2 separate regions of the Homo sapiens genome follow, and region 1 is linked to region 2. The links come from fine-mapping of genetic effects on gene expression. Tissue or cell type: sun-exposed skin. Region 2 holds a variant in brackets; the other region holds the start of a gene. All regions are shown on one strand. Distances are from middle to middle.

The links. PIP is the estimated chance that this variant, and not a neighbour inherited with it, causes the effect.
Region 1: it holds the start of LRIG3-DT, and the variant in region 2 is fine-mapped to the expression of LRIG3-DT in sun-exposed skin (GTEx, PIP 0.97).

What each region holds. Positions count from the first base shown.
Region 1 is chr12:58,918,444-58,923,674 of GRCh38, forward strand. It overlaps LRIG3-DT (LRIG3 divergent transcript), which reads left to right and starts at 2,261. Exons shown (of 6, transcript NR_183518.1): 1 at 2,261-2,347; 2 at 2,956-3,029. LRIG3 (leucine rich repeats and immunoglobulin like domains 3) reads right to left here and starts at 2,061. Exons shown (of 19, transcript NM_153377.5): 1 at 1,557-2,061. The coding sequence starts at 1,792. RefSeq lists an enhancer at 958-1,227 and silencers at 1,608-1,687, 2,108-2,217, 2,836-2,945.
Region 2 is chr12:58,985,989-58,991,219 of GRCh38, forward strand. All of the region lies in intron 2 of LRIG3-DT (LRIG3 divergent transcript), which reads left to right. Among named protein-coding and RNA genes, the nearest start is that of LRIG3-DT, 68 kb to the left of the region's middle. The variant A/G (reference allele first, on the strand shown) is at 2,592.

The DNA.
Region 1 (5,231 bases), 68 kb before region 2:
TACTGCACACTAGCATGATCACAATAGACAACTTGACATTGAAAAACTATCGAATACAAGTTAGATGCCGTGAATAATCTAAGCATATCTAAATACACTCCAGGAAGCACTGTATTCATTTTCTCTTTCTCATCCCTCTATTATTCCTAAGTGTTCACCTCCAGTCATTTACATGTTCAGTTCCATATGTTGTCAATAGAGCCATTCACTCATGAATAAGGCAGCATGACCTCCACAAGAGGCAATTTAACAGAATTAGCCACAACTAATTGAAAGTCTCCCTGCTTTCGGTTAAAGACCTTATCTCCTCTTCCAATTGCAATAAAAACTACTAAATAAAACGTCCCAAGAAATTAAATATCAATCCAATACTAATTCTACTTTATTAAACTAAGGCTTATTAAAAACACAAGGAATATACTTTCTGATGGCCAACAATTCTACATTCACAAAAGTTATTTAGATTAGCACAATAATTTTAAAATATAAATTCTTAAACACCTGACCAAACCTCCTACCACATTAGGGCATTGGAATAGTTCACTAGAATTGTTTTAAAAACTTAAAATTTTCATTGCAATTCTGCTAAGTCAAAATATAAGATTACGTATGAAGTGCACTTTTATTTTAAACAGAACAACTACTTTAAAAAATACAAATTTTGATTGTTTACTTTTTACAGCACTCCAATTTTAAAACTGGGACTGAGGAAGAAAAGAGATGACATTTGGAAAAGATCAGCATTTCCAACTAAATTACATTTTCTTCCTTGTTCTTCACGCAGTTGGCAGTGATTTCAGGTTTTCAGACTTCGCAGCTAAAAATCCAAAAACTTGCATAAGAGCTCCCTGCGCTCTCCCCTAAACCGTCTGGGCGTTCTGAGGAGCTACAGAAATCACGCCCTTGATTCTGGATAATCGAGTTCCGCCCTTTCCATAGCTACCGACCAGTCTTTACAATCTGGTTGAGGAGTGGGAACTTACGGTCTGCTAATGTGAAAAAGCAAGCAGAGGGAGAACAACAGAAGTACGTCCACCATAACTTGGAGAATGACCGAATTCTGTTGAGGGGGCTTCCCAAATGAAAAGCCTGACTTCAGTTACTGGGTGGGAACAGGAAAAGGAGTCTGACGCAGCTAGAAACTAAAACTGAACCAGACTCATAACTCAGCGAGAACTGCAAACTCCTGATGTGTGCAGGTTGCCGCTTATCTCCCCTGGGCCTGGCAGGAGCAAGCATTTGAACCCCTTGGCTAGCTTAGGGCGCAGGACTTCATCCCCAATCTCTGGCGTCGTTACTGGCCCCCAACCCTGGTCTACCTGCAGCCAGTTAGGACGCGCCAAGAGCCCACCTGCGCCGCCCGCAAAGCACGTGGGAGGGAAACTGAGGCCCGGACAGTTCTTTTTCCACGCCCACGGAGCGCCGATCGCGGCCTGGGCCAGAAGGAGCTATACGGCAAAAAGGGGACTGCACGCCGAACCCCATTCCCCGCCGGCTCCTGTTTTCTCGAATCTCCAGCGGCCCGGGCCCCCTCCCCCCGCGGGAAGAATACTTACAGCCGAGCGACCCAGGACGGGAGTGGCTCGGGAAGACGCGCTAGCCGCTTACGACTGCAGTCCAGCAGGTCCCCGAGGCAGCGGCAGGTAGTGGGGCATGGGCGCTCGGCGGCTACCCCAGAGGGCTGCCCGAGTTCCCCGCGACCGCCGCTGTCTGACCGGCCAGCGCGCCCCAGCACCGCGCACAGCAGCAGCCCCAACCCCGCGGCGCGCGCACGGAGGCTCGGCGCGCTCATCGCGGTCCAGCGGCCTAGGTCTCTACCCGAAGCTCCCAGCCGGCGCGCGCTCGGGGCCCGGCACAAACTTCCAGCCGAGGGTGCACGCCCGCCCTCGCGGTCGCGTGCGCGCTCCTCCCTCGCGCTGCCCGGTCAATTCCTTCTTTTACTCCCGGCGGCGAAGCCCTTTCATGCCCCCAAACAGCAGGAGGGAAACCGAAAAGAACTGCCAACTGCAACAGAGTTGCAGCTTGAGCAGCGTCGGCTCGCCGAAGCCCCTTCTTGTCTGCAAAAGAAACTTTTTCGCCTCCACCCCGCGGCACTGCGCCAAGTCCCCGCGCGGCGGAGTAGCAAGGCGGGCGGGTAGAGGCCGACGCGCGCCCATTGGCCGACTCGGCTGCGGGCGTCCCCGTGGCCACGTGACAATAACACCGCTCCAGCCGGGGGCCTACGCGCGGGAGAAAGTGGAGCTGAGATTGTAGGAAATTCAGAGTTATATTTTCCAGCCTCTCCAGCCAGAAGTCTCCACTACGTCGTGGGAAACATATATCAAATGGAGTTGAAAGGCAAAAGGAAGTGAGCAAATACTGGGCTAGTTCTCGGAGTTGGAGGTATTTAGGAGAACTTCAGGGAAGTAAAGTTTAATTAGCAGTGTTTTCAGGAAACTTTTCAATTCCAAATTAAAGACACTGATAAATTATCCTACCATCCACAGATGAAAGAGTGGTTTCAATGAAAACAGCTCTTTCAACGTTAATGCTGGTGGGTGTTCCCCCATACATCGGCTTCAAAAGTAAAAACAATAATAAAACGTAAAACTCGTGGTTTTGGAAAGTGTATATTGAATTACAAATAGCCAGCCTTCGTGCACTGGATAAAGCTGGGCGGGGTGGGGGATGGGAGATGACCTTCTAATAGACCTCGATGGCAATCATAGATTCCTGGTAATAGTAATAATAAAAGTAGTCACAGTGACATTTCAAAGTAAAATGAAAACTAAGACCTTGGAGGAAAAAATTAGTATATGCACCTTGGTCCACTTGCGCTTTGAGTAATGACACATGTTGATTGAGAATGCTACCAGGGTAAAAGTACCTCCCGGCCTCCTCAGCTGGGGGAGTGGATGTTTGGGGCTGGATTCAGGCTACAGGACTTCCCAGTGAAGTTTGTTCCTTAACTTACAGGTGATCAGCGCCACAAGATGTTGAAACTAATGGAGACCGCAGAGATCATGTGCTAAGGGGCCTTCCTCCTCTGGGTAAGGAAATAGACCTAGAGAACGTAACTAATGTGTTTGTTGCAAAAAAAATAAAAATAAAAGCAAGACAGAAAACATGAACAAACCAAAAAACAAACCCTGGAAGCTTAAAGTAAGTTTTCACTTCTATACATTGTTTATTGCATGCTGTCTGCCCAAGCTTGTCTGTCCTTGGAGTTGCGTAAACTGCTCATGATTGAGGAGTGGAGATAGCTTGTGGAGTTGAGACTTTAACCCTGACTCTAAGGCCCATTGATTTTTCACTGTAGCAAATCACTCCCACTTACGGGGGAAGGAAAAGACTCACTTTGAAGTTAACACACCCTATTTTAGATATGGTATCCCATTTTCTTATTTCCAGCTACCATTAACAACAACGCTACTACCTTTTTGGATGATGTATAATTATAATTAGAAAATATCTATAATGATGGCACCTTGGTTTTGAATTTATGATTTTGTCTGCTTGGGAGTAGACAAAACACACTACAGTCATAGTAAGGATTTTCCAGCTCAGTATCCCCCATCTATTTTTATTTATTTTTTTTATTTTTTTATTTTTGAGATGGAGACACTCCAGTCTGTCACCCAGGCTGGAGTGGGGTGCAGTGATGCGATGTCGGCTCGCTGCAACCTCTACCCCCTGGGTTCAAGCAATTATCCTGCTTCAGCCTCCCAAGTAGCTGGGATTACAGGTGCCCACCACCACACCCGGCTAATTTTTTTGTATTTTTAGTGGAGACAGGGTTTCACCATGTTGGCCAAGCTGGTTTCTAACTCCTGACCTCAGGCTATCCGCCCGCTTTGGCCTCCCAAAGTGTTGGGATTACAGGCGTGAGCCACCACACCCGGCCCCCCATCTATTTCATACAAGGAAAATTAGGTATAATTCATTGAAGTTTTTAAAAAGAAGAAAGATTCCATTGTACACATGCCATTATGCATAAGCAAGGTAACATCAGTATGGAGGCTTGCTCTTGAGACATGAGACATATGACAGGGATATAAATGTGCTACCATTTTGGGGAGTTTTGGCTCATTTCCTTTTCTCATTCTTTATTCTCCTTGTATAATTTCATCTTCTTCCATGAATTCCATTTACATTTACATGCTGACATATACAACATCCATATTTCAGCCCAGGTCTTTTTCCTAAACTCGAAATCCATATGTGCAATTACCCACAGGTCATTAAAAATTGGATGTTCAAATGTAACATGTCTAGAATTAAATTTCACCACCCTTGAAACTGACTTGTTTCCTCCTGAATTCACTGTCTTAAAGAGTGGATACTTCCCTCCATCCAGATGAATGCCCCAGAAACCTGAAAGTCACCTTAACATTACTTCATTCTCACCACCACCACCACCACCACCAGAGTCAATCAATTAGCAAGTCATGTTAAAGCTAGCTCCTAAATGTATCTTCTCTCTGTAGAAATTATGCAAATCCAGACCACCAGCAGCTCTTGCCACCTATCAGGCATTCCACTGCTTTCTCCTCAGGGCAGTTAAGTGATATCTCTGAAGGTCAAATCTGAGCCTGTGACTCAACTGACCAGTTCTTTTCTTGGGTTCCTAGTGTCTTGAGAATAAGGTTCAAATTCTTTAGAGTGACTTATACAGTTTTGTTTGTTTGTTTTGGCATTGAGCCTCTATTTATCTCTTTAATTCATTGTCTTTCATCATTTTTCTCCTACTCTAGGAGCTACTTGCAATTCTCTTCCCAGCTGTACTCTTGCCTTCAGCCCTCTTGCAAATGGTTCTTCTGTCCAAATCATTCTCTGCTCCTTCTTCTGCCTGGTTGATGGCATTCCTTCTTTGGCAAACACTTCCCTGAGTCAGGTTTAACTATCTATACCTCCAGTATACTTCCAGCACATCAGTATTGACTGGAATGTAATAGACCATTTTCACTCTAACCCCCAGGTAATACTACAGAATTTTCCGATAACCATGTATTCCTTATCGCCTTTAAGGGTTTTACCAGCTATTGTGAAGTTAAATTACCTAAGTTTTCAGTACCCCAGTTTCTCAGTCTGTAAATTGGGAATACAATAAAAAACGATCTTATCTGGCTGGCTTCCATTTATCAGTTACTGGATTAGCAGTCACTCTGTTCTCTCTGTACAACCTGACTGATGCCTATGACCAGCTGAAATCTAGAAACTACCAGCCTCTCCTTAGAACAGCCTTTGCATAT
Region 2 (5,231 bases):
CACCATTATTAACATTAAGGCCAATGGTCTATACGAATTTCCTACTTAATGTGTGATAATGAAGGTCTTGGTTTTTTCTAAAAGCTCAGAATTGATTTTGGGTTCAAATTTCTAAACCAGACTACTTTGCTTTTTTCCCTTCCCCTCCTTCAATATTTCATTTCTTAAAAAATTCTTCCCATGTACCCCCAGAGACAAGTTCTTTGCAGGACCATGTGCTGTGGCATTTATGATGAAGAATATGCACTCCTACAATTGTATACAGACGAGGTTATCTTGAACTTTGGGCCATGTTTCAAGACACACATGTTTATTTAGACATCGGGCTTATCTAGTAATTTTTTGAAAATTGGAGAGCAGGTCTCTGTTTCTCTGAGATAGATCTATAGAAGATTTTGTCTACAATCTGTGATTAAAGATAGAGTTAATAATTTGAACATGGAATCTTTTCTTAAAATATGTAACAAATGTAGGAAGACAATTTTACAACAAAGAGCTCTGCTCAAAGTTCTAATGAAATTTCTTCTTATAAAAATATTCAGGATGGTATTAGGTATTATAAGTTTTCTCCTAGAGTTGTTTTAGGTTTTACATTTAAGTCTTTAGTCCATCTTGAGTTGGTTTTTTTGTATGTGGTGAAAGGAAGGGGTCCAGTTTTGATCATCTCCATATGGCTATGCAGTTATTCCAGCACCATTTGTTGAATAGGGATTCCTTCCCCATTTTGTTATTGTCGAAGATCAGATGGTTGTAGATGTACTACAGCTTTATTTCTGGGGTTCTCTAAGCTGTTCCATTGGTCTATGTGTCTATTTTTGTTCCAGCACTATGTTGTTTTCATTACTGTAGCCTAGAACTATAGTTTAAATCCAGGTGGTGTAATGTTTCTGGCTTTGTTCTTTTCACTTAGGATTGCTTTGGGTATTTGGGCTCTTTTTTGGTTCTATGTGATTTTTAGAATAGTTTTTTTTTCTAATTCTGTGAAAAATTTTGTTGGTACTTTGATAGAAATAGCATTGAATCTGTAAGTTGATATAGTCAGTATGGTCATTTCAACTTTAGAAGAAAACTTAAAAGAGATCATTCTGGATGGACACAGGCCCTGGCAAATATTTCATGATGGAAACTCTAAAAGCATTTCAACAAAAACAAAAATTAACAAATGAGACCGAATTAAATTAAAGAGCTTCTGCGCAGCAAAATAAATTAACAGAGTAAACAGATAACCTATAGAATGGAGGAAAATATTTGTAAACTATGCATCTGACAAAGGTCTAATATCCAGAATCTATAAGGAACTTAAACAAATTAACAAGCAAAAACAAACAATCCCATTAAAACATGGGCAAAGGATATGAATACACACTTCTCAAAGGAAGACACACATGCAGCCTACAGGCTTATGAAAAAATGTTCAGCATCACTAATTATTAGAGAAATGCAAATCAAAACCACAATTGAGATACCAGTCAGACTGGCTATTATTAAAAAGTCAAGAAAGAACAGATGCTGACGAGTTTGCAGAGAAAAGGGGATGCTTATACACTGCTGGTCGGAATGTAAATTAGTTTACCCACTATGGAAAGCAGTTTGGTGATTTCTCAAGGAATTTAAAACAGAACTACCATTTGACCAAGCAATCTCATTATTGGATATACACCCAACGGAATATAAATTGTTCTACTATAAAAACACATGCACGCTTATATTCATTGCAGCACTATTCATAATATCAAAGACGTGGAATCAAGTTAAATTCCCATCATTGGTGGATTGGATAAAGAAAACATATACACCATGGAATACTACACAGCCATCAAAAAGATTGAGATCATGCCCTTTGCAACAATATGGATAGAGCTGGAAGCCATTATCCTAAGTGAAGTAACAGGAACAAAAAACCAAATACTACATGTTCTCACTTACAAGTGGGAGCTAAACACTGAGTACACATGGACACAAAGAAGGGAACAATAGACACGATGGCCTACTTGAGAGTGGCAGGAGGACAATGAGATAGGAAGAGATTCATTTCTTTTATGAACTTAAGAAAACATCTTGTGAAGCTGAGATTTTGAGAAAAGAAATGAGGTAGTCTTTTGATAAATTGAGATAAAGAGGTTATTAGATATGTGTTTTAGCACACTTCCATTTCTGCTCATTACATACTCTTTTTCCTAATAAATTTCAAAGATTACAAAGCAACAAGAAACATTACAGAGAAAGGTTTCCTGTTTTGACCGATTTTACATATTTCTTTATTTTTTTACCAGATTGCTTCATCATTATTTTCCCTGTCTGATATATTTGGATGTGTCCCCAACCAAATCTCATCTTAAATTGTAACTTCCGTAAATCCCACATGTCATGGGAAGAGCCCAGTGGGAAGTGATTGGATTATGGGGCAGATCTTTTCTGTGCTGTTCTTGTGATAGTGAATGAGTCTCATGAGATCTGATGGTTTTAAAAACAGGAGTTTCCCTGCACAAGCTCTCTCTTTGCCTGCAGCCATCCATGTAAAATGTGACTTGCTCCTCTTTGTCTTCCACCATGATTGTGAGGCCTTTCCAACGACGTGGAACTGTAAGTCT[A/G]TTAACCTCTTTCTTTGGTAAATTGCCCAGTCTCAGGTATGTCTTTATCAGCAGTGTGAAAACAGACTAATACAGTGTCTATCCAGGCAATAGGATGAAAAGTCCCTGTTCATAAAGTCCTCTCTTCCACTGGAAGATGTTAAGGAACATCAGAGAGTGAGGGTTTGGTGCCTGTTGTCAGAGGACCAATGTTTCAATTATTGCTTTGGGTAAGTTAGGGAACTTCTGAGTTTTCTTATTTCTAAAAACGGAAGAGGAGATGATCTCATCTTCCTCTTTGGGCTGTTCTCAGGCTTAAGTGAGTTAATATGAAGGAAGGGGCCCAGCCTTTACATAGATGTTTGGGAAAGAGTCACCAAGACAGAAGGGAGAAATTACAGCATTTGTATAGAAAACAATATGGCATATTCTAGTTTCAAGTATTGCTATTTTTGAAACCAGCAGAACCATTGTATATTATAGGTTCTCTTCACAGGTTTTAAGTTACACTCTTCTTAATAGTATAATTGCATCCATTCACTCATTATTCATTTATTCACTCACTTAAATATTTATTGGTACCTAATTTGGGTCATGACACAGTTTTAGGTACTGGGTGTGAGAACATGAGCAATATGTAGAATGTTGAATTTTATATGCAGCTGAATTATCATATAAATGTGAAGGTTTGGTTATGTGTCTCAGAATATTTACTATACAGAGACCATCTCTGAAAGAATTCTTAGAGGATATAGAACAAGAAGATGAGAAATGAATTGAGGGGGAGAGATAAAATATATCAAGTTAGGTTATATTAAAATTCAGTAAAATGGCCAGGTGCAGTGCCTCACACCTGTAATCCCGGCACTTTGGGAGGCTGAGGCAGGGGCATTGCTTGAGCCCAGGAGTTCAAGACTAGCCTGGGAAACATAGTGAGACCCTGTCTCTACAAAAAATAAAAAGATTAGCTGACTATGGTGGCATGTGCTTGGATTCCTAGCTCTTTGGGAGGCTGAGCCAGGAGGGTTGCTTGAGCCCAAGAATTTGAGGCTATAATGAGCTATGATCATGCCACTGTGCTTCAGTCTGGGCAACAGAGCAAACTGTGTCTCTAGAATAAATAAATGAATATAATGTATTTTTATATAAATGAGGAAAGATTAAAAGGGAAACCTGTATATCCACAAAAATCTCGCAGAACAATTTCAGATAAAACCCATATGGGCCTGAGAAGGATGGTTGTGGAACAGATGAAGTAAGAGCATATTGAGCTTCCCATTGTATTCAAGGGAACATATGGATATTGAAAACCTCAGACACTAATTGGAAAAAAATTAACATTAGTCTTGGCCTCAAAAAGAGAAGAATAAACATGGCTTTTATTACATTTAAACTAAAAAATGAAATATTCTATCTATATCCAATGGAGCCTAGAAAAACAAAAAAAAGGGGGGAAAAACACGGAGTGTTTCATAGATAATACAAAATATGCCAATAGAAATCAGTTTTAGTATAACTAAAGGAAATATGATCTATAAATTCAAAGATCAGAAGTCAATCTGGCTGGATCTAAATATAATATTCAGTAATATTTTGGATAATGAAGACATACTTAAAATGATGCAAAAATGTTGAAAATAATGGGATAGAAAAAGATTTTCCAGGCAACTAGGAACCATGTGCTTAAAGTAAAACAAAACAAAAAAGTTTCAAAAAAGACAAAGAAGATCATTAGATCCAGAATTTACAGAGGCCAAGAATGCAATGATTTGGAAGGTAGACTAAAAGAAAAGAGCAAATAAATAAGAGCCAGTGATGCTCTTGTAGGAGGGAAAGGAATGGGATCGAGATTTTTATCTATTGGAAAAAATGGTATAAATCAGATGGATGTACATGAACTAATGGTGATACATGCCATGGCCAATTATGTCCACTGATGTTCAAAAGAAGCAAAATAAAGCAAGGTGATGGGAAGGGGGGATATGTACTTAGAAGGCTATGGGGCTAATTAGGAAGCCCTTGGATTGTTATGAAGCTTGCCGTATTATTTGTCTAACATACTGATGCAGAGATATCCTAATAACTACTTAAGGGAGTTATATAAATGAGTGAATAAGAGCAAGGACGTTGGTGTCAATGAGACATGGGTTGAAGTTCTTACTATATCTTGTGTTTGTGGTCTTGGGGGAACTGCTTAATTCAAGCTTTGGTTCTTCCTTTTTAAACATCACATTATAGGGATGATATGAGGATGAAATGAAATAATGCATGTAAACTGTTTAGCATAGTGCTTGCCACGTGATACTGTCAAGAAAAGAGCATGTTTGGAACAATTTTCAGGTCTCTTTAATTTCTCTGACAATGCCTATTATCATTATTTTCACTTCACTGCATATGTAATTCTGGGTCATAACTTTATTCCTCAAAACTGTCTTGCTGTTTTCCCATTGTCTTAGAAATTTACAGTTGCAGAAAAGGATGAAAGATGCCAGATTTATTTTTAGGACACCTGTTTCCTCAGTTTGGATTAAAAACATATATTTTCTATGTCTTTGAATTCCAAAAATTTTGCTGAAATTCATGTAAGTATGGGTGCTTTTATCAGTAGTTTAATCTCAAACATGTGTGACCTTTCAATCTACCTATGGAGTTCTTTCTTTA